4 linked regions of the Homo sapiens genome follow. The protein of the gene in region 1 interacts with the protein of each later gene in a pairwise test. Each region holds a gene or a part of one and is shown in the gene's direction. Other genes may lie near its edges.

The links.
Region 2: the proteins of CEP63 (region 1) and TBC1D15 interact in binary tests that used the Homo sapiens proteins (3 or more experiments, as listed by UniProt).
Region 3: the proteins of CEP63 (region 1) and TXLNB interact in binary tests that used the Homo sapiens proteins (3 or more experiments, as listed by UniProt).
Region 4: the proteins of CEP63 (region 1) and ROGDI interact in binary tests that used the Homo sapiens proteins (3 or more experiments, as listed by UniProt).

What each region holds. Positions count from the first base shown.
Region 1 is NC_000003.12:134,543,819-134,553,071, forward strand, and holds part of CEP63 (centrosomal protein of 63 kDa), read left to right. Parts: intron 1-1,767; coding exon 1,768-2,001; intron 2,002-2,330; coding exon 2,331-2,470; intron 2,471-3,516; coding exon 3,517-3,654; intron 3,655-5,243; coding exon 5,244-5,358; intron 5,359-6,244; coding exon 6,245-6,442; intron 6,443-8,107; coding exon 8,108-8,194; intron 8,195-9,253. UniProt on the Homo sapiens protein: Required for normal spindle assembly.
Region 2 is NC_000012.12:71,917,518-71,924,825, forward strand, and holds the end of TBC1D15 (TBC1 domain family member 15), read left to right. Parts: intron 1-180; coding exon 181-280; intron 281-933; coding exon 934-1,031; intron 1,032-3,195; exon of another isoform or gene 3,196-3,213; coding exon 3,214-3,330; intron 3,331-3,850; coding exon 3,851-3,937; intron 3,938-5,465; coding exon 5,466-5,687; 3' UTR 5,688-6,796; downstream 6,797-7,308. UniProt on the Homo sapiens protein: Acts as a GTPase activating protein for RAB7A. Does not act on RAB4, RAB5 or RAB6.
Region 3 is NC_000006.12:139,260,089-139,269,341, reverse strand, and holds part of TXLNB (beta-taxilin), read left to right. Parts: intron 1-6,568; coding exon 6,569-6,763; intron 6,764-8,904; coding exon 8,905-9,024; intron 9,025-9,253. UniProt on the Homo sapiens protein: Promotes motor nerve regeneration. May be involved in intracellular vesicle traffic.
Region 4 is NC_000016.10:4,796,468-4,799,633, reverse strand, and holds the end of ROGDI (protein rogdi homolog), read left to right. Parts: intron 1-966; coding exon 967-1,065; intron 1,066-1,449; coding exon 1,450-1,563; intron 1,564-1,646; coding exon 1,647-1,696; intron 1,697-1,772; coding exon of another isoform or gene 1,773-1,793; coding exon 1,794-1,920; intron 1,921-2,132; coding exon 2,133-2,174; 3' UTR 2,175-2,666; downstream 2,667-3,166.

The sequences.
Region 1 (9,253 bases):
TGCACAGGAAACCTTTCCTCTTTGAAAGAAAAGTTTATATTATATTTAAAAGTTTGGAGACAGTTCCATGCTTAGCAGTTGTTCTAGTGAATCTAAACCTAAATGTTGATGTTCTTCCTTTATACCATTGTAGGGATCTGGTTAAAAAAAAAAAAAGGCTCTTTGCACTGAAATCTTGATCGGTAATTTATACAAACAGTATTTGTCTATCTCTTCACCTCTCTCCTACCCTCTCTCTGGCTTATGGGAAGTTTTTAGCATCTACTTTATTTGACTACAGTATATAGTACAGGATTTGGACCTGTACTGTAAATAATAAAATCTTTAAATCTGCAATAGATAGATTTCCCAGAGATATTTCTACTTGTATTTCTAAAGTAAAATTGTGTGATTTTACCTTTAGAAATATTTCGAGTAAGGGAAGTTTACCTCTACAGATTATTTATATTCATCTTCAATGTGTAGATGAAGTACCAGCCAGGATGCTGGATTAAAACTTGTAAAAACTAAAAAGTTTGGAGCTAAAACCCAATACTGCTGGGATGCATAGCCTAAAACATAGTAGTCAGTAAACGTATCATTCAGAGAAACCAGTTTGAGATGCATTATATTTGTTTACCTCTTTTAACTCAGGAAGTGTCCAAAAACTGATGACAGAACCAATCTCTCCTCCCTTATAAGCACCTTTTCCTCCAATAAACAAAAGACCACAATTTCCCCATTTCTCTGAATTTAAAGAGCATTTTATGGTCACGATGACTAATCTAAATATGAATGTTTATAATGTTAAAACAGAATAATTACAACATGCTCTAGGTGGGGGGGGGAATTTAAACTACAAATTTAGTGATTTTGAAATTCTAATTTCTAAACTTCCATCAGAAATATAATAATGCATTATAGTTCCTATTTCCTATGTTTTAAATAGGAAATAATTCCAGCCAGGTTGCGGTTGAATTTCTGTGTGAGTAGGTAGAATACTGTAGCATCTCTTCTCCTGAGGAATCCCTTTACTTTATCCATTCTTTTCTATTTATTTATTTATTTGAGACAGGTTCTTACTTTGTCACGCAGGCCGGAGTGCAGTGGTGCGATCTTGGCTCACTGCAACTTCCGCTTCCTGGGTTCATGTGATCCTCCCATGCCACTGTGCTCGGGTAATTTTTGTATTTTATTTGTTTGTTTGTTTGTTTTGAGACAGAGTCTCATTCTGTCACTAGGCTGCAGTGCAGTGGCGCAATCTCGGCTCACTGCAACCTCCAACTCCCTGGTTCAAGTGATTCTCCTGCCTCAGCCTCCCGATCCCGAGTAGCTGGGATTACAGGCACGCGCCACCACGCCCAGCTAATTTTTGTATTTTTAGTAGAGACGGGTTTCACCATGTTGGCAAGGATGGTCTCAATCTCCTGACCTCATGATCCGCCCACCTCAGCCTCTCAAAGTGCGGGATTACAGGCGTGATCCACTGCACCCGGCCAATTTTTGTATTTTTTATAAAGACAGGGTTTCGCCATGTTTCCAGGCTGATCTCGAACTCCTGAGCTCAAGCGATCTGCCTGCCTCAGCCTCCCATAGTGTTAGGATTACAGGCGTGAGCCACCACTCCCAGCCTCTCAATTCTTTCTTACCCCTTCGCAATATATATATATATATTTTAGTGAGCCAATGCTTTATGTTTTTATGGAAATAATAGTTTCATTTTAGTCTTATTCATTGATTATTTTATCATTTCCCTTTTACCTATTGATTGATAGTCTGTGTTTCTAGGCTCAGCTTGTCAATCGGAAACAGAAATTAGAGTCTGTGGAACTTTCTAGCCAATCAGAAATTCAACACTTAAGCAGTAAACTGGAGCGGGCTAATGACACTATCTGTGCCAATGAGTTGGAAATAGAGCGCCTCACCATGAGGGTCAATGACTTGGTTGGAACCAGTATGACTGTCCTACAGGAGCAGCAGCAAAAAGAAGAAAAATTGAGGGAATCTGAAAAACTATTAGAGGTATGTTTTAAAATCACTATAATTGGGGGAAGTGTGTGTATGAGTATTTTAAGAGAGTGTTATTAAGCTAGAACTAGGTTCTACAATCCATACTTTCTTCCCTACTTTATAAATGATGGATCAGATATTGATAGTTTTACTAATATTGTGACTTTATTACAATATTTACAATATTGTAATATTGTTACGTAACTTATAGTCTGACTTCCTGGCTTCTCGTGAAATAGAAAAATTGTAATAATAGCTGGCTTAGAAATTTCTGAGTATTTTGCAGGTTCTGCAGGAATTAAAAAGAAGGAAAATTATAATCATATTTGACTTTTTTGCAGGCTCTGCAGGAAGAAAAGAGAGAATTGAAGGCAGCTCTTCAGTCTCAAGAAAATCTCATACATGAGGCCAGAATACAAAAGGAGAAGTTACAAGAAAAAGTAAAGGCAACTAACACTCAACATGCTGTAGAAGCTATAAGGTAAATTTAATCTTAAATATTATTCATCTTAGCCACTTAATGACTAGGTATTAAGCACTAGGCTTATTTTTATTTTTATTTTTATTTTATTTTCAGATAGTCTCCTGTTGCCCAGACTGGAGTGCAGTGGTGCAATCTCAGCTCACTGCAACCTCAACCTCCGAGGTTCAAGCCATTCTCCAGGCTCAGCCTCCCAAGTAGCTGGGACTACAGGTGCATGCTACCACACCTGGCTAGTTTTTTGTATTTTTAGAGACGGGCATTCATCATGTTGGCTAGGCCGGTCTTAAATTCCTAACCTCAGGTGATCTGCCCACCTCAGCCTCCCAAAGTGCTGGGATTACAGGTGTGAGCTGCCACGCCCATCCAAGCACTAGTTTTCATATTGCATATTCATAATTTTATGTTTGATCATATTGTGGATTTTCTTAATTGGCTTTAACTTCTGAGTTAGGTTTTTAAAGTGTTATAAAATTTTGTGTGGTTAATTTTCTTCTGCCACCAGTTAGGGTCCCTAACAGAGACTCTCATGTTTAGAAAGTTAGAAACCAAGGTCAGTTTGCATGCTTGGTGAAAATCCAAATGTGCAGGGAATTGTCATCCATGTCTCCTGGAGGCCTCACTTTGTTGGTGGAATAAGTTGTGATTAGTAGCTGCTTATCATTAATAGCAGCCAGCCATTGGGCTAGCCCTCTTGCTTGATTTAAGTCTGATGCACACTTTTATTTTTGCCAGAATTCTCCTGTAACTTTTCAGTTTTTTTGGTACAGGGTTTCAAGTGTCACTGAAGTGATTTTGCCATTTTGTCTTTTTCCCTTGAAAAAAGGCCAAATCCCAGTTAAGAAGGGAGTAAATTGCTACTTTTTGAAGTATCAGCATCTCTTGACTCTTTCTTTCCTCTCCCAATATTCTTTTTATAAAGCAGGAGACAAACTTGAAGAGTTCCAAAGAGGTTACCAAAAATGATGGGGAAACACAGACTAGATGAGCATTATTTTTGTTTGCAGAGATAAAGGCGTTAACAATCATCCTATGTCTTTCCATAGGCCACGGGAAGAATCTCTGGCAGAAAAGAAGTACACCTCTCAAGGGCAGGGGGACTTAGACAGTGTGCTCTCCCAGTTGAATTTTACCCATACTAGTGAGGACCTTCTGCAGGCAGAGGTGACTTGTCTTGAAGGCAGGTACATAATTATACACACATTTCAAAAATTTCAAGTTGTTAAAATGAATTTTTGATCATCATATTGTAAATGAATGTAATAGTCATAGTAAAAAAAATAAGATTTTTTTCTAGTATCCACAAATGGCCTAAGTTCTTATTTCTTTTTTTTTTTTTTTGAGACGGAGTCCGCTCTGTCACCCAGACTGGAGTGCAATGGCACAATCTCAGCTCACTGCAACCTCCGCCTCCCGGTTCAATTGATTCTTCTGCCCCAGCCTCCTGAGTAGCTGAGATTACAGGCGTGCACCACCATGCCTGGCTAATTTTTATATTTTTGTAGAGACGGTGTTTCACCATGTTGGCCAGGCTGGTCTTGAACTCCTGACCTCAGGTGATCCACCTGCCTTGGCCTCCCAAAGTGCTGGGATTACAGGCATGAGTCACCGCACCCTGCCCTAAGTTCTTATTTCATTGAGAAGACAGAAGCAATTAAAGGAGAACCTCTTAATCTTTCTGTCATCAAATCTACCAGTCTGCCCATACCTGTGCCTTTCTGCACTTCTAAGACCAACCACTCCACTTGTGTCCTTTTTCTGTAGTTATATCCTTTCTCTTCTGCATCATCAAGTTCTTTCTGTCTGCTGAATCTATCCACTGGTATAAAATACGCTGTAACATCACCCATCTGGGGGAAAAACCATCCCTTAATCCTATGTCTCCGTCAAGTTATTTCCACATTTCTGTACTTCTCTTTAAGACCAAATTCTTCAAAAGAGTTGTCTATACTGACTCTACTTCTTTACCTTTCACCTGTTTAGCAGCCCTTCACTTAGGTTTTCCTCCTTGCCACCTCAGAAGCAGGGTAGGAAGGGGTAACAGTTGACACATGGTGATCCTTTTTGTTCTGCTGTGGTGTTGTTACTTCCTTGGGTGTTAATTGAATCCTGACTAATGCTATACCATACCCACCTAAACACTTGTCATTGTCGTACTTATAGAATTTTTTTTGGTTTTTCATAACCTCTCAACTTTTTGATTGGGAAGAGTGTGATATCTTGTTTTAAACACATGAATCATGATCATTTGTACACTGACATTTTCTGTATGTAAAAGATAAAATTGCTTTTAACATGAACTGTTAACCTTTAGGCAAACAACAAGAGAAATATCATTTTACACTTTTTAGGTTATCTTTAAGTAATACATTTTTTGTTTTTACATTTATTTCTGGTTTTGGAAACCAGTAAGTATTTTCTTACTTTTATCTACATGTTAAATACACAAACATGCATACACACACATATTTTCTGCTTTATTCCTTTTGGAATACTTGGAGTACTTGAGATAGTCTTTGTTATTATTGAAGTATATGTGTACTCTTCCGTTTGACTAAAATTAAGTTTATTATTTTTGACGTTGGGACAACAGTTTACATTTTTATCACAGTTTTTTTATTGATTGGCTTTTTAGTAATATTTTAAATGACTGAGGTGATGTTTAAGATATTGGCTGGATATTTTTTGGATATCAAGAATGTAAATTAGATAGTCCAATTTATAGGTTTCAGGATTTTGGTTTTAAGTATGGGATCTTATTTTTGTCATACAGTTTGGAATCTGTGAGTGCAACGTGTAAACAGCTGAGCCAAGAACTAATGGAAAAATATGAAGAACTGAAGAGGATGGAAGCACATAACAATGAATACAAAGCAGAGATTAAGAAGGTAAAAATCTGCATACCTAGGATTGCAAAATTGTATGTGTTTATGGACAAAGCTGTGGATTGGGAGATTATAGGGGTTATTTTTAATGAGAAAAAAATGTAGTTCAAGGGACCACTTGATATTTAGGAGTGGAAGAGTTTGTGGAATGTGCATAGGGAAAGTGCCTTCTTTCTTTGGCATCGCCCCTGATGCCCAATAAATATTTTTAAGATAATTGAAGGCTGTCCCCTTTGAACTCAAAAACTTTATTTTAAACATGTTTTGATGAAAAGTTTTCTAAAAGACATACACTCTGTTGCTTGCAAAAAAATATGAACTGTCACTTAATATTTTCTTATTGCCTAAAGATAGTATTTATGTATTGTCTCCTGTGCTATGATGTAGTTAGTATCCTTGTCAGCTATTGAGGTATGCAGAGCTGTTTGTGTCTATATGAATGGGCCCTAACTGTCCTATTTGTTTGATTTGTATTTTTTGTTACTTCTTTAAGATTACTTCTAGTTCCTTACTTCCTCTTGTTCTATTTGTTATCCTGTGGACTAAGATACCATATGAGCAAAACTTTTAGATTCACAACTAAAAAAAAGAATGAAGGTCACAAGTACTCTCCTCTAAATTGTGTGCATGGACCTTGATTCTGGTCCTCAGCACTTGAATAACCCATCTCTCCCTGTTTTGAGGTATAATAAATGATTGTAGGTATAACCACCTGACCTTCAGTACAGATATGCAACTTGGTAAATTGCTAATTTTTCTGCAGATTTAATTTAAGAGAAATTTAATGTCTTGAGATAAGGTGAACTTTTATTTTATTAGCTAGTAACATATTATTCTATCTAAATGCTTTCTCTTAACTTTTGGTGCTTTCTTTTCTGCTTCTTTATAGTTGAAAGAACAGATTTTACAGGGTGAACAAAGTTACAGTTCTGCACTAGAAGGAATGAAGATGGAAATCTCCCATCTAACTCAGGAGTTACATCAGCGAGATATCACTATTGCTTCCACCAAAGGTTCTTCCTCAGACATGGAAAAGCGACTCAGAGCAGAGATGCAAAAGGCAGAAGACAAAGCAGTAGAGCATAAGGTGAAGCCTGAACAAAACCTTTTTTAAATTTGAAATTTGTTTTAAAGATGGAGTTGATTAAAGACATAATTTTCATAATATTTAATTCAGTGAATTTTTATTAGATACCTGCTTTGAGCTGAGAGTATGCTGGCTAGCAAAGAGTTTAGTGAGCATGGTGGGGAGGTGAGAGTAGACACAGACAAGTAAAGTGACTGTATCAGTGGTGTATGGTGAGAGTCACTAGAGATCACAAGCAGCCTGAATCTAGACCACTCGCTGCAAAGGCCTTCCAGAAGGTGTGATAGCAAAGCTAAGTTAGGAGCAAGCTGGGTGATGGGGAGGAAAAGTGTTTCAGGCACAGGAAAATACAGAGGTCTCTAAGAGAGAGTAGAAACACGCTTGCTGTGGTTGAAACTAGAGTACAAGTGGGATGAGTGGAAGGTATGAGACTGGAAAGCAGGGACTGGCTGCTGAAGGGCTACGTTAGCCACGTAAAGGAGTTATACTGTGACCTTGAGGTCAGTAGGGAATGGCTGCAAGCAGGAGTAAAATTCAGTGGTCCTTAAATGGAGAATAAGCAGGGAGACAGAGCACCCAGATGCTGTTACAGTGGTAAGATGGTGGCCTGAGCAGTGGGCAAGGGAGGCAGAGGGAAATGGATGAATTCTGGAGATACTGGGCTGGTAAAAATGACTGGGCATTGTATTTGATTGGCAGGGAAGGTGAGGTAGGCAGAGTTAAGGAATGGTGCTCCACAGGATTTAAACTTAGGCAACTGATGGAAAGTGATGCTTTTTAATGAAATAGAGAAAAGACAGGGAGCAAGTTTGGTGAAGGATGATGAATTTGTGTGAAAAGTACACAGACTGGGGAAACTGGTGGAGAGGACATTGGTTTGACACATTTGTTTGGAATAAAGGCTGGAATTTTGTATGGGTAATAGTCAATTCCACAGAAGGCCTGGAGTTGAAGATTAAAATCAGGATTAGGCATTTAGCTGTGGCTGTCCTTTCTTCATGGTGACATTTGAAACCCCCTGAGAGACTTAATGATTATAGTGAGAAAGCATAGCGTAAGAAGAGAAGTGACTCAAACCAAACTTAGGATACTTCTCATTTAGTGTAAAAAAGATGTTGGAATGAAGCTTAAAAAAAGGAGCAGTGAGGAGGGAAATCAGATAGTTTTTGCCAAGCCAAGGAAAGAAGGAATATTTTCAAATGGGAATGGTCAAGCACAAAAGCTGAGGGGAATGAGAACTGAATATAAGTTGTTATTTTGTGAATAAAGTACAATTCCATGTGACGTTGCAGGTAGAAGCCAAATTGGAGGAGGCCAGCACAGGAGAATGGGTAGGGATTTAAGGGGTTCAGTGGATTGAAACTTTGCTGCTTTGTCACCTGATTTATCCTATTAGAATGATATCTTCATCCCATTCATGTTCATTCACCTTAATAACATCTTAAAAATCTTTTTAGAAAGTCCATATATATATATATATATATATATATATATACACACACACACGTACATATATATATGTATATATATATATAAATATGTATATGTATATATATATAAATGAAGAATATGACTTAGCCTAATGAAAATTCCATGTGGAAAAATTTTGTAAGATGCATGTGATTTACATGTTATATTTATTTTTTTCTGTTTTCCCCTTTTCAGGAGATTTTGGATCAGCTGGAGTCACTCAAATTAGAAAATCGTCATCTTTCTGAAATGGTGATGAAATTGGAATTGGGTTTACATGAGGTACATAAATAGAAACTTAAGTTTTTCTACTATCCAAGCCTTCAAAAAAATTACTTTGTAAATATTTACATTATAAAGAGAGAATTAAGATCAACTTAGATCCTTTTGCAGAAATTTTCTCAAAGAAAATGAAGGTAAAACAATACTGGAAGTGAGCAAAATATGACTCTCCACTCCAGCAGCAGGAAGGGTTTTTGTTTGTTTTTTTGAGACGGGGTTTCACTCTTGTTACCCAGGCTGGAGTGCAATGGCGTGATCTTGGCTCACCGCAGCCTCCACCTCCCGGGTTCAAATGATGCTCCTGCCTCAGCCTCCTGAGTAACTGGGATCACAGGCATGCGCCACCACACCTGGCTGATGTTGTATTTTCAGTAGAGGCAGGGTTTCTCCATGTTGGTCAGGCTGGTCTCGAACTCCCAATCTCAGGTGATCTGCCCGCCTCAGCCTCCCAAAGTGCTGGGATTACAGGCATGAGCCACCGTGCTCGGCCAGGAAGGTATTTTTTTATATTATGTATGTGATAAAATTTACCTACAGTCTGTGTTCTTAGTTGGAAGAATGTATATGAAGGACTTAGCATATAGTACATAGTACCTGACACTTAGTAAGTATGCAATACATCCTAGATGGTGGTATTATTATTATTATTATTATTGTTAATGATTATTATGTTTGTTATCTTTTTAGAAAGTATATTGTCTTTAAAATAATTTAATTTTAATTTTATTTCTACAAGATATTCACATAATAAAATATTTTAGAATCTTTTATATCCAAGGACTTTTAGTAGGTGCTATAATGAACACAGGCTGAATAAGATAGCATTCTTGCCTTTAAGAGAGATTTTGGATCAGCTGCAATTACTCAAATTACTCTAGCCTTTAAGAGACTAGAGTAATCTAGTAGCAAGGATAAGAAATGCATACAAGCTTCTGTGAAACCAGAGAGAACATGATTAGCCAACAGTGAATTACAGTATAGATGCTCTTTTAACTGTTTTGTTACAAAATTCCTATAATTTGCAAAATGACTCATCTATTCTGACCCATCTTTTCTTGG
Region 2 (7,308 bases), on another chromosome or scaffold:
TTTCTCTTTACCCTCCCTTTTAGTGTTACGTTAGATTTTTGGTTAGTTACGCATTTTTTAAGATTACCAGTGTGGTATAAGTTCAGCATTTGTCCTTAGACATCATGTTTTAGTTATCAGTCATTATGTACTATAAAATATTTATTAAATATTACTTGTAACAATTATTTCCTTTTAAAGCATCAGAATTTTGAAGAACAAATGCAAGGCATGAAGACCCAGCTAATTCAGCTGAGTACCTTACTTCGATTGTTAGACAGTGGATTTTGCAGTTACTTAGGTAAGTTTAGTGAATCAGAACTATACCCAGCAAATTGTAGAGTAATGCATAGAAAAAAATGTAAAGAACTCTTTAAAGAAGCCAGGTGCAGTGGCTCATGCCTATAATCCCAGCACTTTGGAAGCCAAGGAGGGAGGATTACTTGCACCCAGGAGTTTGAGACTAGCCTGGCTAGCACAGTGAGACCCCATCTCTACAAGGAAAAAAAAATGCTGGCTGTGGTGATGCATGCCTGTAGTCCCAGCCACTCAAGAGGCTGAGGTGGGAGGATTACTTGAGCCGAGGAGGTTGAGGCTACAGTGAACTGGGATCACTCCACTGCACTCCGACCTGGGTGACATAGCAAGACACTGTCTCAATAAAAAAGAACTTAAAGACATATATACTCTATTGCACTTTCTTCGGTTCCATAAAAATGTGGAACCAAACTCTCTTTGTATAATTCTGCCTTAAACTTGATTCGTAAAATGTATTATTTGTTAGTTTTTAAAAAGAAGTCAGCCTTCAAGTTTGAAATGATTCCTTAACGTAGAAGACAAATGTATAGGGCCTTGAATTGCCTAAGATGCATAGGAAAGTTAGAGAAAAGTAACTGTATTCTGACATAATTAGCATAAGAGTAAGTCATATGTGTGTTTTTTTCTTCTGCATAGAATCTCAGGACTCTGGATACCTTTATTTTTGCTTCAGGTGGCTTTTAATCAGATTCAAAAGGGAATTTAGTTTTCTAGATATTCTTCGATTATGGGAGGTAAGTCCTTAAATTATTATGCAAATGTGATATTTATTATGAAAAGAAACAATTTATTCTGTAGAGTGTAAATGAATTATGATAGCCTTACTGAAATATCTAAGGCAAGTATGTTCCAAAATTCTGATGAACTGGTAGCCTCTTCTTAAAAATTAGTTTCACACTGAATATTTGGTCTTTTGGAGCTTCGTTCTTCAAATCACAATCTCTGTGAGATTTGGGGCCAAGAGGTATCCCAGAACAAGTGCTCTAGACCATTTGCTGCCTTTGTTCTTCCTTTGTGAGACTTGACTTTATGTGAGGCTTTGCCACATCTGTTATAGAGGATATTCTTATGTTTTTGGTGTACTCCTTTTGTTCCATTTTTTACCCAAGGCAACTCTTTATTTTTTCAACTTTTATTTTAGGTTCAGGGAGTACATGTGCAGGTTTGTTACATAGGTAAATTGCATGTTGCTGAGGTTTGGTGTGTGAATGATTCCATCACCCAGGTAGTGAGCATAGTACCCAATAGGTAATTTTACATCCCATGTTTCCCTTACACCATCCCCCCATGTGTAATCCCCAGTGTTTATTTTTCCATGGCAACCTTTAATGAAAAACCAAATCATTTCACATTTTCTAAAGTATTTGCTAATAATAAATCAGTGTGCTTTTTTTTTTTTTTTTTTTAAAGAGAAGGGGTCTTGCTATGTTACCTAGACTGATCTCGAACTCCTGGACTCAAGTAATCCTCTTGCCTCAGCTTTATAAGTAGCTGGGACTACAGGTCTACAGGTGTATGCCACTGTGTCCAGCCCAGTGTGCTTGTTCATAGAATGCTGGTATAATGATTGATCATACCTTAGGATAACAGAAATTCTTCCAAGGAAAGAATTGGGAGATAATCCATTTTGATTGTAAATCCAACTTTATACAGTGGAACTCTAGTGGTCTCTGAGGTTTTTACAGCTGGAAATGGATTCCTATACTATTGATGGCTGTGCTACCATTAGACAAGGCATTGTGCTGATTACAAGTTAAAAGTGGATTACTTTATGCTCACTTCCTCTGTTCTCAGATTAGAAGTAAAACCCACATGGTCTCTATCTGGAATCGTACTTAAATGTTTATCAGTTTTGTTAAATTAGTGTCTTAATTTGGGGGTTAAAAATGGGTTAATGTATTTATGCCTAGTGTTCCATTATTGGAACGCTAAGCATGTGGGAGTTGTTTATATCCTACTGCTCAAGGTCATCACCAAGGTCTGATTGAAAAATTCAAAAAATTGCATCCTCAGGCATAAATGGGTTTTAAAGGATGAATTAAGAATATTATTACCACATAGCTAGAATAACTCCTCAATCTGTGTTTACTAAATAAATTCAAACTTTTAATGAAACCTTTGAGGTTAATTGCATTGTAATTAAACTTTCAACAATTGGGTTTAGTTTGAAAATTATTCAACTTGATTTACTCCTTTTGAAAGAAGTAAACACATTTCGGGTATGATCTCATGGTATGGTTTGTGTGGGTGTTTTTATCTTTGTGGAAAATATATTATTAGGTACATGAAGCAGGGGGAAATTAAGACCCTAAATTCGAGGATATTATCTGTATTTAGGAACAGCTGAGCTGTTGATCAAGCGTTTTCTATGTTTGGTTATAAATTTGGGGCAGTTAATTCAGTTATTGTCACAATCAGGGATAAAATGTGATACAAGGGTTTTACGTATTTAGAATGTAGAGCTACCTCTGGGTGTTTCTGATTCCATGTACTGTGTAACTGAACCTTTTTTTATTTCCAGGACTTAGCTTTAGTCTTTTCTCAGATCGAAGTGAGAAACTGATACTTCAGAAAAATATTGAAAATACATCTAACCCTTACACCTTAACCTTGTGTCTGTAGCTCCTGCATTAATAACATTTATCATACTGGTTAGGCTCAGTAATTTACTTACTATAGTTACCTTAAAGAGCCACATTTAGAATATATCATATTCATATAAACTCGATGATAGTTACTTTGTAGCTGAAGGTAAGACTCTCCTTCCCCTCATTTCCTAGCTAGAAAAACCTTGGGCTACCCTAAACAGGCAACATCTACTTTGCATAGAAGTCATTCAGTGTTCAGAATTGTATCTGTGAGGAAAATGTTTTAGAATTGATACAATTTGCAAAATAGTTCTTCTGCCTTCTATAGGTAATGTGGACCGAACTACCATGTACAAATTTCCATCTTCTTCTCTGTTGTGCTATTCTGGAATCAGAAAAGCAGCAAATAATGGAAAAGCATTATGGCTTCAATGAAATACTTAAGGTAGTTATTCCTTTAATTCAGATTTTAGTGTTCTGGCTTTTCTATTTGGTGGTCCTGATATACAGAACGTTTCCTTGGAACATTATTAAATCTCTTGAGTAACTTAAATTGTGTCAATAACAGTGCTAGGAATGACTATCTGAGAATGACAGTTCAAATACATATTGGCCAGTTATTTTTACCTGGCTAATTAGGAAGAAAAGGAAATTCAACAAGTGCTCTTTTATGTAGTTTAGTTTTTCAAAAATTAATTGTCTTTTGATTATAACTTTGAGATATCAGACTTGGAATAGCTGCTGGATTTAATGTTCCATAAGCTTATTAGCTAGTCTTTAGCTTTAAAACTTGAAATAATCTAAAGAAAGATATATTGAATTTCTTACGTATTTGTAGTATATGAATGTTTTTATTTTAAGGATTTTATCTGCAGTGAAATATAACTGGTAATAAATTGTTTATATAATAGAATATAATAGTGTATTCAGTTTCGATATCATTTTATTTTGTTGATACTTTTTAGCATATCAATGAATTGTCCATGAAAATTGATGTGGAAGATATACTCTGCAAGGCAGAAGCAATTTCTCTACAGATGGTAAAATGCAAGGTATACAGTGTTTCAAGTAATTGCAAGATTTGTTTGTTTTTGGTGGGTTGAGATCAAGAAAGATTTTTCTTCTTGGAAATAAAATAGCAACTTTAGTAAGCTGAGGGCAGGCACAAAGTATTGGCTGGCTTTTTGTTTGCTGTTCTAGATTTACAGCACTTAATTGAAAACAGTTGACTATGGCAGATAGGAAACAGCTAATAATAAGGCAAAATGGTAAAAGTAATGAAAATATTTCTATAACAAAGAGGCTGTAGAATTTCAGCAATGATATATTACCCAGTTGAGCTCATGAATGCAGAATAGGCTGTCATATTAAATATGCAGAATCTCTAAACAAAAATGAATGCTAATCAGAAATAATTAAATCAATATTATTTAGCCTGTGTCACTCACTTATATTAGTCAAGTTATTAATTATTTTAAAACAAGGCAAATTTGATGTATTATCTGAATTTGAACCAAAGCAGTATACTTTTGATGTGTTTTAGCTTTTTCTTTCTATTAAGAGAAAGGGCCTTGCTAAGTTGCCCAAGCTGGCCTTGAACTCCTGGGCTCAAGTGATCCTCCTGCCTTAGTTTCCTGAGTAGCTGGGATTACCAGTGCATGCACACCACTGTGCCCACCTCATGACTTTGCTTTTTTTTTGAGACAGAGTCTTGTTCTGTTGTCCAGGCTGGAATGCAGTGGCGTGACCTCGGCTCACTGCAACCTTCTCCTCCTGAGTTCAGTCGATTCTCCTGCCTCAGCTTCCCGAGTAGCTAGGATTACAGGTGCCTGCTACCATGCCTGGCTAATTTTTGTATTTTTAGTAGAGACGAGGTTTCACCATGTTGGCCAGGTTGGTCTAGAATTCCTGACTTCAGGTGATCCACCCACCTCGGCCTCACAAAGTGCTGGGATTACAGGCGTGACCCATCACGCCCGGCCATGACTGCATTTTTTTTTTTTGATACTTCAAGTTCTAGGGTACATGTGCACAACATGCAGGTTTGTTACATAGGTATACATGTGCCACATTGGTTTGCTGCACCCCTTATGACTTTGCATTTTTATGAAAATTCTTGCTTGGTCCTTGTATCATTTGTTCATTGATCCAAACTGTTACTTGGTTCAGTTCTACAAACATTTATTTGATACCTGTTCTCTTCCAAAGCATGTCAATGAGATACTTCTTGCCTTGAAGAACTTTGTTTACTGAGAGAGACAGATGATCTAAGAAAGATATTATTACAAAAAGTAGAAAGAGATAAATGCCAAATATTAGGACATGCTATGTTTGTGGGAATGTGGAGGTGGGATGGAGAGTGACTAATTTGGAAGATATCCAAGAACCACTTAGGGCGAAAGGTGGTTAGCATTTCATTTGGAGCTGAGAAAAATGTTGTGAGAAGGGTACATGACATTTACACTGTTAGGACAAATGCTCAGATTCTGGAATCAATGTAGTCTTAAACAGAAGTGTTACTTTGTGGTTATTTTTCCTCTGTAGTGAAATATGGTTTTGAGTTTGATTTTTCATATCCAGGAATTGCCACAAGCAGTCTGTGAGATCCTTGGGCTTCAAGGCAGTGAAGTTACAACACCAGATTCAGACGTTGGTGAAGACGAAAATGTTGTCATGACTCCTTGTCCTACATCTGCATTTCAAAGTAATGCCTTGCCTACACTCTCTGCCAGTGGAGCCAGAAATGACAGCCCAACACAGATACCAGTGTCCTCAGATGTCTGCAGATTAACACCTGCATGATCACTGTTCTTGCTTTTTTGGGAAGAGACACTTTGTTGCAACCCTTTTTCAAGTACTTGAAAGTTGAAAATTTGAAATCTTGGTATTGATCATGCTTTAAGGTTTATGTAAAGAAAGTGTACTGATGTTCTTACATTAAAGCTTTACAAAGATTTAAACTAATTATTTTTGTAGTTACTTCTACCAAATAGCCTTTCCTTTTCGATAACATTCCTCAGTATTTTTATAGCCAAGTACATTTTATTTTCTTGCTGATGAACTGGAATTGGATAAATATTGCAAGTGGATGAGTTGGAAATTATGCACTTTGAAAAACATTCACTTTGTTTAAGCTTATTGGGTTTCAGATTTGATTAAATTAAATGTGGAGGCTTTCTATAGCATTCTAAGCTGAGAAGTAGATTGTTACCCAGTAATGAAATAAAAAATAAAAATAAAAGGATTTTTTTCTCTATTGTTTACGACAGTACTCAGCTTAAATATTTATGCTGGTCAAATGTGATTTAAATTGGACATTTTCATCAATGCAGTCTAATGTGTAGATAAATATTTCAACCATAATAAGTGGATTGGCAGTATATTTTTTACATTGAACTTTTCTTCACTTGTATATAAAGATTATATATAAGTACTTATTTATGAGTATAAGAAAGGTTAGGCATATTTTCATTAACTGAATAAACGACTTGATTTATATAACCTGGTTTATCAAAATTTAACATGGCTTCAGTATGAGATCTTTTTCAAAACTATTTTCTTAAACATTTATTTCATGAGATTATGTTCAACCCTGTACCTGGTGTAATTTTAAAATTAATTGCTTGTAACCTCACTTTACTAATAATGTTTATTATCTTTCCTAATAATGCATTAACTGATTAATCAGGTGTTTAAATTTTTATAAAATACTCTTGCAAAAAGTTTATTTGAAAAATTTCTAGATGGTCTCATGAGTTTCAAAATAATAATTTTTGTGTATGAACAAAGCTGTTGTTTTTACCATGCAGTATTGCATGATTTTAAGTTATGTGGAATTAACATAACTGATTTTGTTTTAATTGTAAGTTGTTAACTCCTGTATATATCATTAAAATAAATCTGAAGTTGAAGTAGTGTTTTTAGTTAAATTATACTTAGAAATAGTCTGCTTTTTTAAAATTTTTTTTCTTGAGAAAGAGTCTTGCTCTGTTGCCCAGGCTGGAGTGCAGTGGCGCAGTCCTGGCTCACTGCAGCCTCCGCCTTCTGGGTTCAAGCGATTCTCCTGTCTCAGCCTCCCGAGCAGCTGGGACTACAGGCTTGTGCCATCGCGCCTGACTAATTTTTGTATTTTGAGTAGAGATGGGGTTTCACCATGTTGGCCAGGCTGGTCTCGAACTCTTGACCTCAAGTGATCCACTCGCTTCAGCCTCCCAAAGTGCTGAGATTACAGGTGTGAGCCACTGTGCCCGGCTAATTCTTTAATAGAAGAAAAAACATCCAAGATGGACCTCAATTCATCTCTTATTTTTATATGATTAAAATGATAATCTGGCCGGGCGCGGTGGCTCACGCCTGTAATCCCAGCACTTTGGGAGGCCGAGGCGGGCGGATCACGAGGTCAGGAGATCGAGACCATCCCGGC
Region 3 (9,253 bases), on another chromosome or scaffold:
ACTGTCTGTCAGTAATGTTACACAGTAAGGAGATAAAATTAAATCAGATAGGGTGGGATCATTTATCAACAAAGAGATATAAAGAGTAGAATGATACAGCGTGGTCTTCTTGGGTAGTATTGAAAGACAGAATGTTCAGCTGGTCACAGTGGGTCACATCTGTAATCCTAGCATTTTGGAAGCCCAAGGCCGGAGGATCACTTCAGCTTGGGAATTCGAGACCAGCCTGGGCAACATTTATGAGAGCAAGACATTGTCTCTACCAAAAATCAGGAAAATTAGCTGAGTGTGGCACGTTCCTGCAGTGCCAGCTACTTGGGAGGCTGAAGCAGGAGGATCATTTGAGCCCAGAAGTTCGAGCCTGCAGTAAGTTATGATTGCGCCACTACACTCCAACCTGAGTGACAGAGAGCAATGTCTCAGAAAATAAAGAGAGAGAGAGAGAGATCTTATTAATACCATCCAACTGGCTAGAGATTCTCCCCCACCAAAAAAACAAAGACAGAATGATCAAAGTAGCAGGAGACCCTGTAAGTGTGCCCATATGCCCTCAGTAATGGCTTCTCATTATGAACAATGACATTAAGTATTATTATTATGCCAGAAGTTATGCTAAGTGCTTTATATACATTATTTCATTTAATCTTCATGATAACCCAGTGAAGGTTAATATCTCCACTTTATTGGTGAAGAAACTGACACTCAGCAATCCAAATTGGTTGTCCAAGATCAAGCATATTTAAATGTCAAAATCAATATTTGAAATTTGAATTCAAATTCAAAATATTTTCAAATTTTCTTTCTAATTTTTTCTTTGACCCAGGGATTATTTAGAAGTGTTATTTAATTTTTATAGCCGATCATACATGGTCTTATCTTGATACCATATGTACTTCAAAACAATGTTTTTCAGATGTTGGGTGTAGTGTTCTATAAGTAACAATTAGCTTTAAATCATTTATGCCTTTTTTGAATTTTTTTATCAATTGCTGAGAAATGAGAGTTAAAAATCTCTTCATATAATTGTGGAATTGTCCGCTTATTTTAATTATGTCAATTTCTGCTTTATGTACTTTGAAGCATTAATATTAGGTGTATATACATTTATGATTATTATGTCCTCTTGATGAATTGGTGATTTTACCTTTATGAAATGTCCCTTAGTAATCTTTTTTTTTTTTTTTTTTTTTGTGAGATGGAGTCTCGCTCTGTCGTCCAGGCTGGAGTGCGGTGGTGCAATCTCGGCTCACTGCAACCTCCGCCTCCCGGGTTCAAGCAATTCTCTGCCTTAGCCTCCTGAGTAGCTGAAATTACAGGCACCCGCCACCATGCCTGGCTAATTTTTGTATTTTTAGTAGAGACGGGGTTTCACCATCTTGGCCAGGTTGGCCTTGAACTCCTGAGCTTGTGATCTACCCGCCTCGGCCTCCCAAAGTGTTGGGATTACAGGTGTGAGCCACCACGCCCGACCAGTAATAATCTTTGTCTGGATGTCTACATTATCTGATATCAATTTAGCCACTCTAGTTTTCTTACTCTTATTGTTTGCCTGGTGTATCTCTTTTCATCCATTCATTTTCAGCCTGGGTCTTTATATTTAAAGTGCATTCTTTCAAGATAGCATATAGCTGGATCTTACTTCTTTTCATTCCTACAGTATCTGCCCTTTAATTGCAGTACTAGTCCATTAACATATAATGTACTTACTGATGTGGTTTGATATATGTCTACCATTTTATTATTTATTATTTGTCACCTCTGCTTTGTTTATCTTGTTCTTTTCCTGCCTTCCTTTGGATTATTTGAATATTTAAAAATTACATTTCATCTCTTGTATTTTGAAATTATAACACTACACATTATCTTTAGTAGTTGCTCTGTGATTACAATATACATTCTTAATTTTTCATAGTCTTCCTGGAGTTAATGTTGTATTACTTCACATAACATGTAGAAACACTGCAACTAAATAGATCAATTTACTCCCTCAGCCTTTAAGCTATCATCATTATATGTATTATATTTATATACTTTTGTAAAGCCGATGAGACATTGTTATAATTTTTACTTTAAACAATAATATGTATTTCTTCTTAAATTAAAGGCAAAACTATATCCCTTTTATCTACCCAGATGTTTACCATTCCTGATACTTCTTATTCATTCTGTAGCTTCACATTTCTGTCTGATGTCATTTCCCTCAGCCTGAAGTACTTCTTTTAGTATTTCTTATAGTACAAATCTGCTGGTAATCAATTCTCTTAGTTGCCTTTTATCTTTAAAACATCTTTATTTTTTTTTTAATTGAAGGCTAAATTCATTGGATATAGAATTCTGCATTGAGAGAACCTATTCGTGGGTTTTTTTTTTTTTTTTCCTTTTAGCCTTAAATAAATGTGCCACTATACTGGCTTTTAAAATTTCTCATGAAAATCAACAATCATTTGAATTATTGTTCCCCCATATGTGATATGTCCTTTTTCTCTGCCCTTTTCAAGGTCTTTGTATTGATCTTTCGTTTTCAGAACTTTTACTGCTTTAAGGCCAGGAGTGGTTTTTTTCACATGTACCCTACTTGGTATTTGCTAAGCTTTTTTGTATCTGTAATTATATGTCTTTTACCAAATTTGAATTTCTTTCAGCCATTATTTCTTCAAATAGTTTTTCTGCTCCACTTTCTCTCCATCTTCTTCCCTTCTAAGATTCTAACTCTGTGTGTGTAGACCTTTTGATATTGTCCCACAGGTCTTCGAGTCAGTCTTCACATTCTTCACCAATACTTTTTCTCTTTTATTTTTAGATTATCTTATTTTGATTGGTCTATCTTCACATTCAGTGATTCTTTTCTCTCTCATTTTCATTCTGCTCTAAATCCATCCAGTGATGGTTGTGTTTCAGATTTTGCGATTTTTAATTTCAGAATTTCCATTTGGTTCTTTTTTTGTATGTAACCTCTCACCTGAGATTTTCTACCTTCTCATTCATTGAGATAATATTTTCCTTTACATCATTGACCATAGTTATAATACCTGTTTTAAAATACTTGTCTGCTAATTCCACATTTGCAGCATTGTAGAAAAAGCCTTCTCTAATTGTCTTTTCTTTTGAGAATAGGCCATATTTTCTTGGTTCTTCATATGTCAAGCCATTGTCTATTGGATCCTGGATATTGTGACTATTATGTTCTGGAGAATCTGGATTCTACTATATGATGAATAGTTTTTATTTTTTTAAGCAGACAATTAATTTGGTTAGATTCAAACCATAAACTTTGTCTCTTGAGCAGCAGCTGAAATCTCAGTTCAGTTCTTTTCTACTTAGCTAGACTGCTTTGCACATGTGTGGCTCAAGGCCAATCAGATTTGTGTAAAGTTCATTCACAGGATCTGGGCTCTATTTCTCTGACTCTCTCTTTTTTTGGGTGATCTTCCCCTCACTGTTGAGGGACTATAGTTGTCCAGAACTCTGTATTCTTATTCTTCTAATATGAAAGATGGTATGTTTTATATGAGAATTTTGCCCACCTCATACTCCTGCCAACTGCAGATTTCCCTCAAGCTAAAAGCTATAAAGAATAGGAAACTCATGTACAAGTGCCAACTTCCCTCTAGAGTCTGTCTGATTTTGTTTACTCTCTAGTGTCATCATTGTTTCTTGCATTTCATCCAGAGTTTACAGTTGTTATTTGCAAAAGGGTCAACTTGATATGAGCTTCCTTGGCCACACTAGTGAAACACCTTAAGTGTACCTAAATCTAAAATCCATGCGCTGGGAGCTTGGGAAGATATAGAAAGACAATGTATAACTAGGTATTTCCGCCATCACAAATTTTAGCTTTTACTTTTCTTTATTAAAACCGCTTCTTTAATGAGTCAAACGCACACACACACACACAGACACACACACACACACACATACAACCTCACAATTTAGGATAACTTAAGAAAGGATTGATAAAAGTCTGAGACATGGGTTTGTTTCAACAAAATCATACATATATTCAAAGTGATAAATCTGAGCCTCAAACTATGCTGAAAAAGAACTGCCTAGTAAGAGAGGGGTAAGTGTCTCAGGGAGCATGATTTTCCTAAAGAAATGAGAAGCATTTGTTGTCAGAATATCACAGAATTTTAATGTGGAAAGGACTGTAGGAATGATCTAGTCCAAGCTACTCATATGTCTGTACATAAATTAATAATTCACTGATTCATTAAATAAACATTTACTGAATACCTTTGGATTATGTGCCAGGCACAGCACCAGTTGTAAGATGCACAATGATGCTTGCAAGGTTTTTTTGTTATCTCAGACTTCATCCCTCAATTTTATTGACATTATTTTGACTTTGAATAATGTATTTGATAAAGAAAAGATAATTTTATCTCAGACACTGTCCAAATGATTGAAAATCCTTCTAACAATGGACTCAAATTTTATAAGATTTTGCTAGATTTCTTTTGGTCTCATTGAAAAACAATATAGGCCGGGGGCAGTGGCTCAACCCCCATAATCCCAGCACTTTGGGCGGCCAAGGTGGGCAGATCATCTGAGGTCTGGAGTTTGAGACCAGCCTCGCCAACATGGTGAAACCCCGTCTCTACTAAAAATAAAAAAATTAGCTGAGCTTGGTGATGCGTGCCTGTAATCCCAGCTACTCAGGGGGCTGAGGCAGGAGAATCACTTGAACTCGGGTGTTGGAGGTTGCAGTGAGCCGAGATCATGCCACTGCACTCCAGCCTGGGCGACAGAGTGAGACTTCATCTCAAAACAAAACAAAACAAAACAAAACAAAACAAAAAATATATATATATGCAAGATTACATCTTTTGGGCCAGGATTGGCGGTTATGATTGTTTGTTTGACATTTATTTAGTGCCATCCTATCATCTGTACCTTCTTTCTATAGCCAGTTCCCAATTAAAAAAAAAACAACAACTCAGACTTGCATGGGGTGTTTCATTTATTCATTCATGGAATATTTATAAATACAAACGGTATTCAAATCATGGTCTGTAGTTCTGATTCCAAACTTGCTGACTTCTAAGCTAATCAGGACCAGTGAGGAAACAATCATAATCACACATATATTTAGTTGCTCCTAACTGGTAACCATAATTATTTTTAGCGAAACACATATAGTAAGTGTTAGTATACAAAGTTCAGGGAAATAACATCTCGGATAGTTTATTTCTTCAGTTTAAGAAGTACAGATATCTTCAATACCCCTGAGAAGTTGTTGCTTAATAAAGGTTTATAACATGAATAAATTATGATTCTGACATCAGGAGTCACATTAGAGTTGGGAAATGTGTTGTTATTATAGAGGAAAGAAGAAACCTAATGATAAAATATTTTCAGAGCATATATTCTCAGCATCAGTTTTTATTTGGATCACATTATTCTGTTATGATAAAGGTCTGTACAATTACTTCTGTTAAAAATTATTATTTCTTTTAAAAAATCCTGTTACATAATTTGAACTTGGTAGGCAATCAAATTCAGTATAATTTTACTTGCCAACAACGAAGCAAGCTTTCATATTAACAATTAATCAGAACTGAAAGGAATCCTAAAATGTCTGTATCATTTGTCAGCCACGTAAATGTCTCTATCTTTGGTAGGATGTAGCAAAATTAAACCCTTTTATTCAAAAAGAATAACAATCGCAAAGCAATTCTCAATATAGATATGGAGGAAATTGGAGCTCATTGTTAGTGGCTAGCAATGAATGGAGAGTTTTGATTTAGGAGAAAAGAGAACAGAAATGATATAAAAGTTAATTTGCAATTCTTCAATGTTAACAAAGCGGAAGAAGGAAAATTAGATGTTTCACTTTAGAGTTAAAGAAGATTTGAAACTTAATATTGCTTTCAGATTCAAAATTTACATTGAACATTTTAATTACCCTATGTGACACATTTAATGATTGTTCTTTCAAAAACAAAATAATATCCAGCATGTTTGGAAAGATTCCCTTTTATATTCTTGAATGGCTGTAATTGAGCTATGCTGTCTTAGTTTCCTTTTTTAAAGCTTTTTGATGAAAGTTTTTTCTCACAAATAGAAAATTTTTATTGTGATCACTTATATTTACAAAACTTGGTAATATAATTATGTGGTTAATATGCCATGGTTTTTACAGGGAAATATAAGATCTATTGTTCTCCCTTTACCAAACCAGAGAAACACATGATCTGTCTCATCCATCAGTAAACTCAAGTGGCCTTTTTTTCAGGCCACAGCCAAGAGATCAAAATCGTGTGACTGTGTGTTTGTTAGAAATCGCTGCAGTTCATTCACTCAGCAAGAGACGCATCATCTTTAAAACAAGTCTATTCATCACTGACTACAAATTCAAGGCCTTCACAGCACCTGTTCTGAGTAACTATGTACTCACAGCTGAAACCTTTACTCATACATTTATTTTGGGGCTGAGCAGCTTTAGCTCTAGAGAACTGAGAAAAAACATCCCACCTACTCTGCACACTTATCTCCTTTAGGTGACCTAATGCTGAGTTCTATAAACCCGGGGTGCATTTAAACAAAATGTTTTGCTTTTTATCCGCAGGAAGAGGCGCTTCAGCGGGCACGTGAGGAAGAAGAGAAAAGGAAGGAAATCACAAGCCATTTCCAGAGTACCCTCACGGACATCCAGGGCCAGATCGAGCAGCAGAGTGAGCGAAATATGAAGCTCTGTCAGGAGAACACAGAGCTTGCAGAAAAGCTGAAAAGCATCATCGATCAGTATGAGCTCAGAGAGGAGGTGAGAACCACATCAAACAACTTAGAACAGTACATAGATCCGGATCTGGGAGCTAAAGGTGGGAACTTGGTTAATAAGACAGTTACAGCCAGCCCTCTCAACTGATTAATATTTAGGATTGGATTTCCTTGACGAGCCAAAATGAAGACAGATGGTCTTACAAAATACCTGACTGAAAGTCATATGGGATTTCTTCAAAACTGGCATCACTACAAAGTAAAGGCAATAAATAGAAAGTGATAGGCTGTGGGCACAGTTTTCCTTGAAAATAATATTTCTCAGCCTTTTAAAAATCCTCTCTCTATAGCCAAAAATAACTCACGCACTCCCTCTTAAGAATTGCCATGTCATCTAAATTAAGAGTCTGTATTCTGGCCAGGCGCGGTGGCTCACGCCTGTAATCCCAGCACTTTGGGAGGCCAAGGCAGGTGGATTAAGAGGTCAGGAGTTCGAGAGCAGCCTGGCCAACATAGTGAAATCCCGTCTCTACTACAAATACAAAAAAAAATTAGCCAGGCGTGGTGGTGGGCGCCTGTAATCCCAGCTACTCGAGAGGCTGAGGCAGGAGAATCTCTTGAACCCAGGAGGTGGAGGTTGCAGTGAGCTGAGATCACGCCACTGCACTCCAGCCCAGGCGACAGTGTGAGACTCCGTCTCAAAAAAAAAAAAAAAAAAAAGAGTCTGTATTCTATGTACCCTACCAGGCCAATAATAGTATTAATAATGTAATCATTGTAATAATAATGATATCATTTATTCAGTGGTTAGTTTGTATCAGGCAATGTGCTAAGTGCTGTACTTTACATACCATATGGCATTTAATTGTCTCAACAATCTTATGCATTAGATAATAATATATTATCCATATCTTATAGATGAGAAGCAGAAGCTAAGAGATTAAACCACTTACCCACAGTCACAAGAGGCAAAAGCCTTTTACTTTGAATAGGTTATATTAGGGGGATGATCAAGGTCTTTTGTTATACCCAAATTATATTTTAATATTTAATATATTTTTAAGATTCCAGATACCCTCTCAGGATTTTGACACATCATATTCCTTTCCCTATCCCACCCAAATTTTAAATCTCTGCTTTAAAATGTAACATAACATAGTCAAAGCGGCTCTGTTGGTAACATGCTAAGATTTTATCAAGCACAAAACTGAGCCAACAGCATATGGTCGCGGTGGTTAGGTAAATCAAGAAACTCCTAATAGTAAGCCAAAATGCCATGCTACCATTTTATCTTGTCATAAGGATCAATCCCGCTCCAGAATGGAGGTTCAGACTAAAGAAGATAGGAAGGAGTGAAAGGAAAATGTCCATATTCTTCAGAGAGATCTCAGATGGGAATGGGCTGCTATGCTAGTTGTATATTCCTGGGACTGGTTCTAAGTAAAGCCCAAGGGGAGAATTCCATGTCCTGTTTCTGATTGGACCTCCCAGTGACCAGGAATTTATCCATCCTGAGGTAGAGTTGGAAGTTTCTCTTGACCAAACTAGTCCAGAGGTCAAAAGGTGTGGCGAGCTCTGCACATTTGCGACTCAATTTCTCTATGACCCTTGGCCTTGTCATCTCCACCAGAGCAACAGAGTAGAATTCAGGGGGGCTCAGGCCTCACTCCCAGACCTCGGACCACATGCTGGCACCCCAAGGCTTTCTCACAACGCCAGAGGCAAGAATGCAGAGAATTCATCATGATAAATTGCACAAGTGTTGCAATTAAAAGTGGTTTTATATTCACAGAAAGAGCCAAAATACCAAATGATACAACTGTAGCCCCTGTATATTGTATACTGATACATCATTGTCTGTGCTGTCTAGCATAATAAATAGCATCATATCTAATAGTTACCAAACGTAGAAAAATATTGTATGGATCTTTTGGCATTGACACTGCTGAACTCTGGTGCCTCTACCTTTTATAGCTAGCTTTGTGTGTGTGGTGCAAAGTCAGGGGGAGGGGTTCACCAATTTACAGCTTTATTATAAAGCTGTAAGTGATGCCAATGCATTTATCCCTCTCTTCTTTTAAATCTTAAAACCTGGGGAATGTGTATTAATGTGAATTATTTTACTTTGCATTTTTAAGCACCAATAATAAACCAAGCTTTCTATGTACACTTTATTTTTCTTAGCATCTGGACAAAATATTTAAACACAGAGAACTGCAGCAGAAGCTGGTGGATGCAAAGCTTGAGCAGGCCCAAGAAATGATGAAGGAAGCGGAGGAGCGACACAAACGAGAAAAGGAATATGTATTTATCATTTTAGTCGTTGTGCATATCTGGTCTACCTCAGTGTCAGAGACACTCTGAGCAAGTTGTTTTGTATTTATTTATTTATTTATTTATTTGAGACAGAGTCTCGTTCTGTCATTCAGGCTGAAATGCAGTGGCGTGATCTCAGCTCACTGCAACCTCAGCCTCCAGGATTCCAGCGATTCTCCTGCCTCCCCAAGTAGCTGGGATTACAGGTGCCCACTAC
Region 4 (3,166 bases), on another chromosome or scaffold:
GAATCACACCTGGGTTCCAATCCCAGGGCCTCCACGTTGAGCTGTGCAACCTGTAAGCACTTACCTGCCGACTCTGTGTCTCCATTTCTACCTGTGGGGTCAGGGGCAAGCTGGAGTGACTGTTCACCATAATAATTCAGGTCACGGGGCCCCCAGTAAGCACTCGGCACACACCACTGCCGGTAGCAGCAGTGAAAGCCTTCACATTAACCGCGTGGCACATGTGAAGAGCTGACCTGGGCACCTGACCTCATGCTTGAGTTCTGCCCCTGACTTGCTGTGTGTCCTCCGGTGGTTCACCTGCCCTCTCTGGACCTCTGTTTCCTCACACTTAGAACCAGATAGACTAAGATCCCTTCGAGAACTGTAACCACCCTAGGGTGCTACAGGCCCTATACCCCCAGTCAGCTCTTACGTGTTTCCTGGGAGCCACATCACCCTGGTACTCATGGCCACGGCTGAATGGCACGAAAGCTGGGGCTCTGAGGAGTCTGCCAGGGCTCTGCTCCACGGCAAAGGGAAGGAATGGGCTCCAGGTGGTCCCACCATCCATCAGCCGTGACCCTGGCTTACCCCCCTGAAAACCTCAACCCAGTCATCCATCGCCTCTTCCAGGAAGCCCTCTCTGGCCCTTTACAACCAACCTTTGTTGCCTGTACCCCTGTCCACAAAGCCTGTGCCCCTGGGACTGACCTCCCAGGACCTTCCATTCCCCATTGATCCAGCACCCAGGATCCCCGTGCAGTGAATCAGCCCCATCCCGACTGACATTAGTGCAGACATCCTGCCCTCCTCCATACCCAGCTGGAGCCCAACTACCTGTCTTTAACAGGTCCCTGCTGCCGGGTTTCGGGACCTGGGAACAGTAGCCACTGGGCTGGGTGGGAGTGGGAGCTACCATGTCTGTTGTTCCTTAATGCATGGGGACACGGGAGGACGCAGAGCCAACCCCGCCTCTCCCTGCAGCTGATGGACGCAGTGATGCTGCAGCTGACCAGAGCCCGAAACCGGCTCACCACCCCCGCCACCCTCACCCTCCCCGAGATCGCCGCCAGCGGCCTCACGGTCAGTGCCCCTGCCAGCCCCTGCTGCAGGAGAGGGGTCCCACAGTGGGTCCCAGCTTGCCCTCAGGATGGACGCGGAGGGGTGCCACTCCCAGATTATAGGTGGAATATTCTGTCTAGGCAGGTTTCTGGGATGGGGTCCTTGGCTTCCGTCCTGTGCCCCTAAAATACGTTAACCCTGTTTCGGGTTAGTGGTTCCCAAACCTGACAGCACAGGAGATACTTGGGGCACCTGGGAAAAGTCTGGAAGCCCCCATTGATGAGAAGAGCATCTCTGGGGTGGGGACTGGGATCCCCTGCAGACTCCATGAGTGACTGCAGAGCCCCGCTCCATCCAGCCTGGGCTGGGGGCTTGCGAGGGCCTCATCCCACCTGCCTCCCGCAGCGGATGTTCGCCCCTGCCCTGCCGTCCGACCTGCTGGTCAACGTCTACATCAACCTCAACAAGCTCTGCCTCACGGTGTACCAGCTGCATGCCCTGCAGCCCAACTCCACCAAGGTGAGGAGGGACCCCTGCCCGGCCCACTGCCCGCCATGCACACGCCCTGCAAGGCCTGACGGGTCTGGTGCTGTTCTCCCTAGAACTTCCGCCCAGCTGGGGGCGCGGTGCTGCATAGCCCTGGGGCCATGTTGTAAGTAGGCAGGGGCGGGGGGTCCAGGCACGCCCACCCCATCCCTCCACACCTGGAGGGCCGGGACCCTCCTCAGGGACCCTCTCACTGCCCACAGCGAGTGGGGCTCTCAGCGCCTGGAGGTGAGCCACGTGCACAAAGTGGAGTGCGTGATCCCCTGGCTCAACGACGCCCTGGTCTACTTCACCGTCTCCCTGCAGCTCTGCCAGCAGCTCAAGGACAAGGTGGGCCCGGGCCGAGCGCCTTCATTAGGGGAAGGACTTCTAAGGGTCCTTGCCACACCCTCAGAGCGCCCCAACCTTGGGGTCTGGTGTACCCCACAGCACTGCGAGGCAGCAATGCCCTGTCCTGACATATTGTCCTTGGGTGACCTTGACATCTCCCCTGGGCTACCCCATCCCCCTTCAGCAACCTACAGCACCCTCTCCCCTTGCAGATCTCCGTGTTCTCCAGCTACTGGAGCTACAGACCCTTCTGATCACAGCACCCAGGAGCTTGTCTCCAGGAAGGCGGCCCCGTCCCCTACTCATACCCACCACAGAGCACCAGCCAGTGCCAACGCCAGGCTGCTATTTATCTCCCTATCCCACCCCCTACCCCACCTAACACATTTGCACTGCCGGGAATGGACACTGGAAGTGCCAGGAGGAAGGAAGGCTGGTTTGGTGGGGTAGTGGGGAGGTCAGGGAGGCGGGGCCAAGGGTGTCCCACATTCCCAACACCGCCCTCTGATCACCATGGGAATCTTTGGACTCAGGACAGGGCCAGGCGCAGGGCTCTCCCTCCTCTCCCCTTCGCTGTCCCCTCCCCCTGGAGGGCATGGTGTCGGGGGGTGGCACTGAGCTATGAGTCCCGGGGATGGTGAGGAACGCCACAGACAGAGCCACCCTAGGAGTGAGTATAGTGCTGGTGACTGTGTTTCATAGCCCCAGTCCAGGGCTGTCTAAGAAATAAAGATCATCAGACTCCACCTGGAGCCCCTGTCTGTCTGTCTGAGTGGGAACCCAGGCAGGGGGTCTCTGGTAGTCAGTGGCCATGAGCTTCAGGAGCCAGCCGTCTCCCCTATTCCCGGAGCCTGGCTTCCGCGTTCCCTGTGCCATGCCAGGGCAGGGCACAGAACCTACTGTCGAGAGGGGACCCTCGGGCTGCCAAGAAGCCCATGGGGTGGCGACAAGAGCTCTACCTGGGACTTTGGGCCACCGAGTCTTTTTTTTTTTTTTTGAGACGGAGTCTCGCTCTATCGCCCAAGCTGGAGTGCAGTGGCGCGATCTCGGCTCACTGCAGGCTCCGCCTCCCGGGTTCAAGTGATTCTCCTGCCTCAGCCTCCCGAGTAGCTGGGACTACAGGTGCCCGCCACCACGCCCGGCTAATTTTTTGTATTTTTAGTAGAGACGGGGATTCACCACGTTAACCAGGATGTTCTCGATCTCCTGACCTCGTGATCCGCCCACCTCGGCCTCCCAAAGTGCT